Regions from separate parts of the Homo sapiens genome. Here all the other regions are linked to region 2. Evidence: fine-mapped expression QTL. A gene starts in region 2. Each other region holds a variant in brackets. All regions are shown on one strand. Distances are between the middles of the regions. Region 1 overlaps KAZN (kazrin, periplakin interacting protein). Region 2 holds the start of KAZN (kazrin, periplakin interacting protein). Region 3 overlaps KAZN (kazrin, periplakin interacting protein).

Region 1 (2,758 bases), 270 kb after region 2:
TGTCTAACCATTACCACTTTTCCACTGGGTGAACTGGAGTCTTGTAGACCCAGAACATCTGGGCAGACTTTGAGTTTGGGGAGGGGAATCTAGTAGGCTCCTCTGCAGCTGTCTTCATCTCTGCATGTCCTTCCAGAAATGGGGCCAAGAGGAGCCAGGCATGGTGGCGTGTGCCTGTAGTCCCAGCTACTAGGGAGGCTGGGGTGGGGGGATCTCTTGAGCCCAGGAACTCAAGGCTGCAGTGAGCTATGATCATGCCACTGCACTCCAGCCTGCACAACAGAATGAGACCCCAACTCTAAAAAACTTAATAGCTAAGTAAAAATAATAATAAATAATCCGAAATGGGGCCAAGATAAGAGAACTGAATCGGGGTTGGCGGGGGGGTGCATCTGTTCTACTCGGTGATTTTTCCCTTGTTGATCTGTGTCCCCCACTCCAGCTTGGGGGCCCCGGTGGTATTGTGGGTACCCACAAAATGCTAGTCAGGATGCCAGATTCCCCTTCTCTAGTTCCTGCTAGCACCTTGGGATGTGTCCTAGTGAGAACCGCAGACTTGCCAAAGCCATGACAGCTGGATCCTATTCTAGCCGCAGGTTGGGATCGAAGTTTAGTATTCCAGCTTCCACCATCCCCTTCCTGCCTGTCTTGACCCTTCCAGTTTGCTCCTTTAAATCTCCACTTCCCTTTTGCACAGTCTCAAGCTCTTCCAGGTTCTGAGGATTTTTTCTCACTTCTCAGGGTGAGCTCGCGACCTTTCATTGCCTTCCCTGTGTGAGCACAATTCAGGGGTCAGACTCTGGACTCTTTATGGAGCCTCAACGCAGGGGCTGTGACTGTATATTCTGCACAGCGAGGCTCTAATTACAGGCTGCATGCTGGAGACTAGTCATTTTGTGAGTCATTAGGATGTGTGGCTGGGGCTTTATAATATCTTTTGATGAGTTCTGTAATTTTTATATCTTCACCTATGCTAGCATTTTCAGTGAAGCAGAACAGGACAGTAGGGCTGGCAGATGTCACAGCCCCTGGGCTCTTTCTGGATCGGAATTGAAAGGGTCTTCTCCTCTGCACTCTGAGGAGAGAAATATTGA[T/C]TCTGATTGGGTTCGAGGGGTTGAAAGCTGGCATGTGCCTCGTCTCTTGCTAATCAATATTCCAAAGCAGTGGTTGTGGGTAATGTTTGAGTACTTGCTTCTGTTCTCCTTCGTGTTGGCAAATTACAAGCTTTCAGGTGAGACTCCCTTCATTTTGCAGTGGCTGCGAGGAGCAGGTTTAATTAGCGCACAGACCTGCTGGAAAAATCCAGTGTTATTAAAAGCCTTGTTCCATGTGGTGGCTGCTGGGTTGTACCGGTCTCCTGCCCTCAGCCCCTTCCTTCCTGAAGCCACCCAACACCCACCCCGGCATTACTTTGCCATTAATCCCAAGGTATCCGGGGAAAAATGACAGAGAGGTAAGAAAAATCACATGGAAGGTAGAATGTCCAGATTTTTCCCCAATGAGATGAAAAACTCAGGGTCTCATCTCTGTGGAAAATCCCAGTATCTGTCCAGGAGCACTGGGCCTGGCCTTGACCTTGGCTTTGACCTTCAGACGACTGCTGGGGAGATTCCTTGAACATGGAGTCTAGGGCCTGGATACTGGGAAAAATCAGACCCTTCTACTCAAAACCAAAAGACCACAGGCTTTGGAGTTAAGACAGGGTGAAGGGTGAGTCCCAGCTCTGCTCCTCACTTGCTGTGTGACTTTGAACAAATGGCTTAACTTCTCTGGCCCTGTTTCCTCAACTGTTTTTTGTTTTTTGTGTGTTTGTATTGAGACAGAGTTTTGCTCTGTCGCCCAGGCTGGAGTGCAATGGCACAATCTTGGCTCATTGCAACCTCCACCTCCTGGGTACGAGTGATTCTCCCACCTCAGCCTCCAAGTAGCTGGGATTACAGGCATGCACTACCACACTGGCTAATTTTTGTATTTTTAGTAGAGACGCGGTTTCTCCATGTTGGCCAGGCTACTCTCAAACTCCTGACCTCAAGTGATCTGCCCACCTTGGCTTCCCAAAGTGCTGGGATTACAGGTGTGAGCCCCCAGGCCCGGTTTTCCTCATCTGTTAAATGGGGTTCACGACCGTGACTCCCTCATGAGCTGCTGTGATGCTTCATGAGATGAGGAGCTTCACATCTGGCACAATTAATGGCCCATGGTCAGCTCTCAATCGGGGGCATTTGTTGTGAAGGTTGTGTGGCACTATGTGTCACTGTGGCCACACTGTTCTCATTATTACATATATGAATCTTACTCCACAACCAAGTGTGCAAGAAATCTCACCAGGCCCAACCCTACCAGAATGATAAGAAATTAAGACTCATCATATGAATGGCCGCCTCCACACCTGCCTGGGGTCACACAATAACCCAGAAGGCTTGTCTGATATCTGGAGAATGAGGAAGGGGCCTGGAGGCTTCCATCCTCCATGGTCTCAGCTCACCTGTTCTTTGTCCAGGCCCACCTGATCTCCAAGAGGTGGACAGTGCTGTTGCCTGAGCCCAGGTGTGTCTTCAGTGAAGTCAGAAGCTCCAGTGTTCAAGGTCCAGACCCTCCACCACCACACGGCACCTATGTGCCCTCTTTAGTCCTGCACCTCCTCACGATGCTGGAACAGTCCAGGCACAGTTGTCCTGCAGACCTCTCCTTCCTAGGTTTGGGGAATTGCCCAATCAGCTCTCTTCTAGAATGTTCCACAGCCTCTTCCCCAATTCCT
Region 2 (2,758 bases):
CAGAAAAGGGGGGAGAAATCTATCATCCAAGGCCTCCTGAAGGCGCAGCAGGAGGAACTTGCAATCAGATGATTACTTTCTTCCAGTCCCGCTGTCACCTGGTTTCTGCGGGCCCCTTAAGTAAATTGCTTAACCCTATGCAGAGCCTCAGTTTCCTTATCCCTAAAATGGGAATAATAATCCTCACTCACAAGAGATAAGAATGCATATAAAAGCACTCTACACGCAGTTTTTGCTTGGTTCTTATGGGCTTCCTGTAAGAACCTGAAGGGTGGGCAGCCTCATTTTTCCTCGCAGCACCCCACTGGCTTCTGCAATCTGCTCTTTGCTGCTCTCCGGAGGTTGACTGAGCTGGAATGATGGCGCCCTGTTGACCAGAGGGTTGCTGGCTGTTTTAAATTGTCCTATTTGCATGGAATGAAGTTTGCTATGGTAACAAGGTCTGGTGGCTGGAATCCAGGGCCCCAGTGAAAAATGCAAAGCCTGTGGTCTGGGAGAGAAAGAGGAGCTGGAGAGGGCATATCAACGTCAGGTTACCTCAGTTCTTCTGTGAAGAGGGGATGGGTAAACTGAGGCAGCAGGGCTCAACTCTTCTGCTCCCAGTAGAAGAAAGGGAAGAAGCCCCATCGACGCCTTCCTTCTTATCTCTCAACCTCATCTCTGTCCCCGCCAATATTCAGCCCGGCTAAGAAGCTTAGGAGCTGGCTAAGGCTGCTCCTCCACCTGGATGCACACACAGGGCTAGGGCTGTGGAGAGGCGGGAGCACCAGCGGCCCACGCCGAGGAAGATAGGCGCTCCCTCCTGGGGTGGGCAGCGCAGGTCTGGCCTGCGGGTGGGGGGTGGAGAGTGAGAGGCACGCGGGGCACCAGCTCAGCTCCCCTCTGGGGATTTCGTACTCGCAGTTTAAGGAACCGGTGGAGCACGAACTCCACTCCTGAGCTGGCGCAAGCGTCTCCCTTCCATGGAGATCCACCCCGGCTCCCCTCTGAGGCCCCCTTTCCAAGCACCCTCTCTTCCGAGCACCCAGCACCTCCCCAACCTTAGCACGGCTCGGGGCACCAGTTCTCCAGGGCGGGGGCTGCCCCACCGCTCAAGGGAGGGGACAGAGGGCCGGCCTCGGTCCAGGCGACCCCTGCCCCTCGCCAGGGGCGCCACCTTGGCCCCCTCCCGACTGCCGTCCGCCGCCTCCGCCCCCCCGGGGGGTGTGTCTCCGAAGTACGGGGGCGCGGGAGGCCAAGGGTGCCCCCAGCCTCCGACCGAGACCCCCTCCCGAGCCGGCGGCGAATGGTAGGCTCCATTTAAAGAGTGCCTGGTGGCGCGCGGTGTCCTTCTTGGAGCAGCTCTCGGCGCCCGCCCGCCGGGGTCTCGGCGATCGCTGCTCCTCCTCCTCCTTCTCCTCCTCTTTTTTCTCCTCCGCCTCCTCCCCCCGCCGCCTCGCCACCGCCGCGGCTAGGGCTGGAGGCGCCGCTGTCATTCCTGTGCCGGAGGAACCGGCGCTGCCGGTGCCTGGGGGTCGGGGCGCGGGCGAAGCCGGGCCGCGGAGGACACAACAGGTAGAGCCGGGGGTGCCCGGCCGCGCGCCCCCCGCGCATCATGCAGCTCTTTGTCACCTCTCTCGCCCCCAGGCCAAAATCCTGAGCATGATGGAAGACAATAAGCAGCTCGCGCTCCGCATCGATGGGGCGGTCCAGTCGGCCAGCCAGGAGGTGACCAACCTGCGAGCCGAACTCACGGCCACCAACCGGAGACTGGCGGAACTGAGCGGCGGCGGCGGCCCCGGCCCGGGCCCGGGAGCCGCGGCCAGCGCCTCGGCGGCGGGGGACTCGGCGGCGACGAACATGGAGAACCCCCAGCTTGGAGCGCAAGGTAGGATCGCCCCGGCGCCCAGGGCGGAGGAAGGCGAGCAGAGCACGCCCGGCCTCGGAGGTGGCCGGGGACCCGGGGTCCCCCACACCCGGGGCGAAATCGCTTTGCATTCTGGCTTGTAACCCTTTCCGCCCGGCGGTGGCCACCGCTGCTCTCCGGCTGGGAGTTGCAGGCTGCTGTCATTCACGAAAACCCGAGCGCAGTGTGCACGGGGTCACACGGTCACACCGGCCCCGGCCAGCCTGAGCGAGGCGCAGCCGGCGGGTCCCTTCCGGCATCAGAAAGTGCCCTTTCCGTGGCACCAGCCCCCTAGCTCCGTGCAAACTTTTCATGCCGGGGCCTTTTCCCCACCCCCCGCAGGGGTGAATGGCACAGTTCCCCCCACTTCCTTAGGCTCCTTCCCAGAGAGAGCTCCGGGCTCTGCCGCCGTGGTTGGGATAGAGGATTGCACTGCTGTGCACTTTTCTCCGCGGATGCCAAATCCCTTGGCTCAGTTGCATCTGGACTTTATTTTCTTCTCATTTGAGGTCTCTCAGGCATTGGAATCTATAGATGCAACAGTAGATGCTCAGCTCAGCAGGGAGTTTAAATTTCCGCAAATATAAACACCGAGAGCACTTTCCAGGGGGATACTGTAGACCTCAAAGGTTGAGCGGTAGAGAAATGAAGGCTTAGGGTGGTGGGCTGCAGGGAGCCCGTTTGAAGGGACTCTGCGGTTTAGAGAAGAGGAAGAAAAAGACAGTTGGTTTGTGTTCACATTGACAGAGATTAAGCTCTGAAACCCCCTGCAAGACATAAAGGCGGATGGGGCATTCCCTAAAATGTACTGTTTGGTTTCTGTGACTTAGAAAGTAAAAGGGTAAGCAGGCTTTGGGGGATTTTTTTTTTCTT
Region 3 (2,758 bases), 210 kb after region 2:
ATTTGGTTTGATTTTTTAAAAATTTCTGGTAGGCAGAATAAGCTTTACTGGAGTAACCCCAGCCTTGGAGGGCTAGGGTATGAAGCCAGCATGTACAGTGCTCGCCGTGTGGGTGGTAGGCATTGCTGCATGCCTGTAGACCCGGGAGATGGCAGTGGCTGGGAGGCTTGCAGTCTGATGTCACCCCATCACAGGCCACAGTGCTGGTGGGTCTATAAGCCAGGTCCCTTCCACCAGGGGCATTTCCACCACCATCAACTCTGCCAAGGATCATGAAAAACATAATACAAGGTAACGGGCTAGATCAGGATTTCTCAGCCTCAGAACTGTTGACATTTGGGGCTGGATACTCTTTGTTTTCGGAGGCTGTCTTGTGCATTGCAGGTGCATTATAGATGTTTAGCAGGATTCCTGGCCTGTACCCTACTAGACCCCACTAGCCACCACTTCCTTACCCAGTAATAATAATGTCCCTAGACATTAATTATCAATGATAATCACTAATCATTATTGATCAATATTCATGATTATTAATCAGCCCCAGTTGAGAACTTTTGGGTTCAAGAATCATGGACTGGGAGGCCGAGGTACCTTAGAGGGCAGGACCTTCCCTGAACACCTTTCCTAAGGGAGCACCGCACCCCCATCACCTCATCTCTCTCCAACCCCGTACCTTGCTTGCTTTTCTTCAGAACTCTTATCATCCACTGGATTTCTCTTATTTTGTTTATTTGATTGTCTGTTGGCTGATTTTCTGCTCAGGGGCCTGGACCAGATCTGCCTTCCTCGTTGTGGCATCCTCAGCCCCCAGCCATTGTTTGGCACAGTGTGAGGTTTAGCAAATGTCAGCAGAATGAATGAATCTCAAAGTTCCACCAGAGATTCCCAAAAGGAATACTTTAATGAGTGTCCACTCCGCTCTAGACACTCTGATGGACATGACCCCCTCCCACCCCACATTAGCTCATTCAGTCTTGAAAATAAGGAAGCTAAGGCACAGAAAAGTCTAGTACCAAACTGCTAGCAAATGATAGAGGCAGGATGTGAACTCAGGCCTGCCGGATTCCAGGGTGTGGCTTGTTGGGGACACCAGGCTGCTTTCCCAAGGACATGAGGGTGGCCTAGAGGAGCGGCCTCCAGACCTCTGACTGGGGGCATCCTGCAAGAAAGCCGAGTCATGAGAAAACCAGCCTCCCAGGGTGGGGACAGGCCAGGTCCAGCCGTAGCCTGCCAGCCCAAATGGGCCAGGAAGTCAGTGCTGGGGCCTTGGCACTGCCTGGAGCACCATGGCCAGCTTGTCCTTCTGAGGGCATAGGACATCCAAGGCCCTAGACAACTTCCGTCTTTTCAGATTTGGAGATTTATGGACCAACTGCTCTTTGGTGGCCTCCAAAATGTTTCTTTTTCTTTGCAAAGGGAAACCACAATCCAAATCTTTCAACCATTTCCCCCCTCAAAGCAACATGAGAAATGTGGTCCAGAGGAATTCCTCGCCCTCCCCCAACCGACAGCACAATTGTCAGAAAACTCTGAGATGAAACAGGATTTTTGTGGTGCTTTTTCTTCCCCACCCTGTCCCCTCACAGTAATTAGCACGTCAGCTTTCTCTTGTGGTATTTAT[GT/G]GTTTATATAACACAGTTCATTGTTCCCAAATGTTAGTCAACTCCAACTATAAATCAAGCCCCAAATCTTGAATCTCATTCAAACTCACAAGTTGATGCTACACGAATAAATCATAAGAGGGTGGGAATGTTATAAAAGTAGAAAACAATTCAGACAAACGCTGTAAATACAGCTCTTGGAACTACTTAGTGAATACGTTAAAACAATTAAATGCCTTGTGCAACATCGAATAGTAGATCAGTATTTTAAATGAAGCCATTTGAAAGTTTCTTTGGCTAAGAATCATTAATATTTTCAGTGCTTTACAGTTCGCAAAGATTTTTTTGCACATTGTTTCATTTACTCTCTTACAACCTTCTTTTAATGTAGGGAAGCAAGCTATTTTACTAAATTCTATCAATTCTAAAGCACACGTTGTTCTCATTTTTTGTCTCTGAAACAAGAATGCATCTTCATATTAAAGGCATGGTAGTTGAATTGGCAGCTTTGTTTTCTTAGTGATACATCAAATGATAGTGCATGTTATAAATGATGGTGTCCTAGATTTAATGAAATGCATATTATGATGATCCCTGTTGCACGGGGGAAATGACAAACCCTGAGATGTTACAGACTTGGCCCAAGGTCACGCAGTGAGTAAATGGAAGAATGAAAACTTGAACCTGAGAAGGGCAAGGTCTTCAAAATCCATCTAAGTACCCCAAGGATGGTCCTGAACTGCCCTCTGCAGATGGTGATCCCGATAACTGAAGAACTTTTGTTTTTCTGGAAAGAGGATGTAAGTTTGGAGCCAGAGCAGAACTGCTTAAGATGTTAGAAGGGACACCGAGAGCTGTCACATCTTTCCCCACCTTTCCCTTGAAATGTTCAGCACCTCCTCAGAATATTGAGGTAGCATTGCTTTGAAGGGTGTCCCAGGATTAGTCTCTTCTGGCAGGCCAGCCCTCTGTGACTACCTTGAGCAAATTTGATGACACCCTGCCTCCAGGTGGACTCAGTCCCACACCATGACACGGGGCTCACAGAGAGGAGCTCAGACTACATTTCAACCCCTTCACTCCTTAGCTGGTCTCCTTGTACAGTGCACATCTTGAGCAACTGTACTCAGCATCCCTATGCACAGGGCACCCACGTG

Evidence for each region. PIP is the estimated chance that this variant, and not a neighbour inherited with it, causes the effect.
Region 1: its variant is fine-mapped to the expression of KAZN in whole blood (INTERVAL, PIP 0.90).
Region 3: its variant is the best candidate, but not a certain one, in a credible set for the expression of KAZN in whole blood (INTERVAL, PIP 0.56).

What each region holds. Positions count from the first base shown.
Region 1 is chr1:14,868,545-14,871,302 of GRCh38, forward strand. The region is part of intron 1 of KAZN (kazrin, periplakin interacting protein); the gene reads left to right. Among named protein-coding and RNA genes, the nearest start is that of KAZN, 270 kb to the left of the region's middle. RefSeq lists an enhancer at 1-61. The variant T/C (reference allele first, on the strand shown) is at 1,095.
Region 2 is chr1:14,597,357-14,600,114 of GRCh38, forward strand. It overlaps KAZN (kazrin, periplakin interacting protein), which reads left to right and starts at 1,329. Exons shown (of 15, transcript NM_201628.3): 1 at 1,329-1,867. The coding sequence starts at 1,642. RefSeq lists a silencer at 1,996-2,155.
Region 3 is chr1:14,809,631-14,812,388 of GRCh38, forward strand. All of the region lies in intron 1 of KAZN (kazrin, periplakin interacting protein), which reads left to right. Among named protein-coding and RNA genes, the nearest start is that of KAZN, 210 kb to the left of the region's middle. The variant GT/G (reference allele first, on the strand shown) is at 1,622.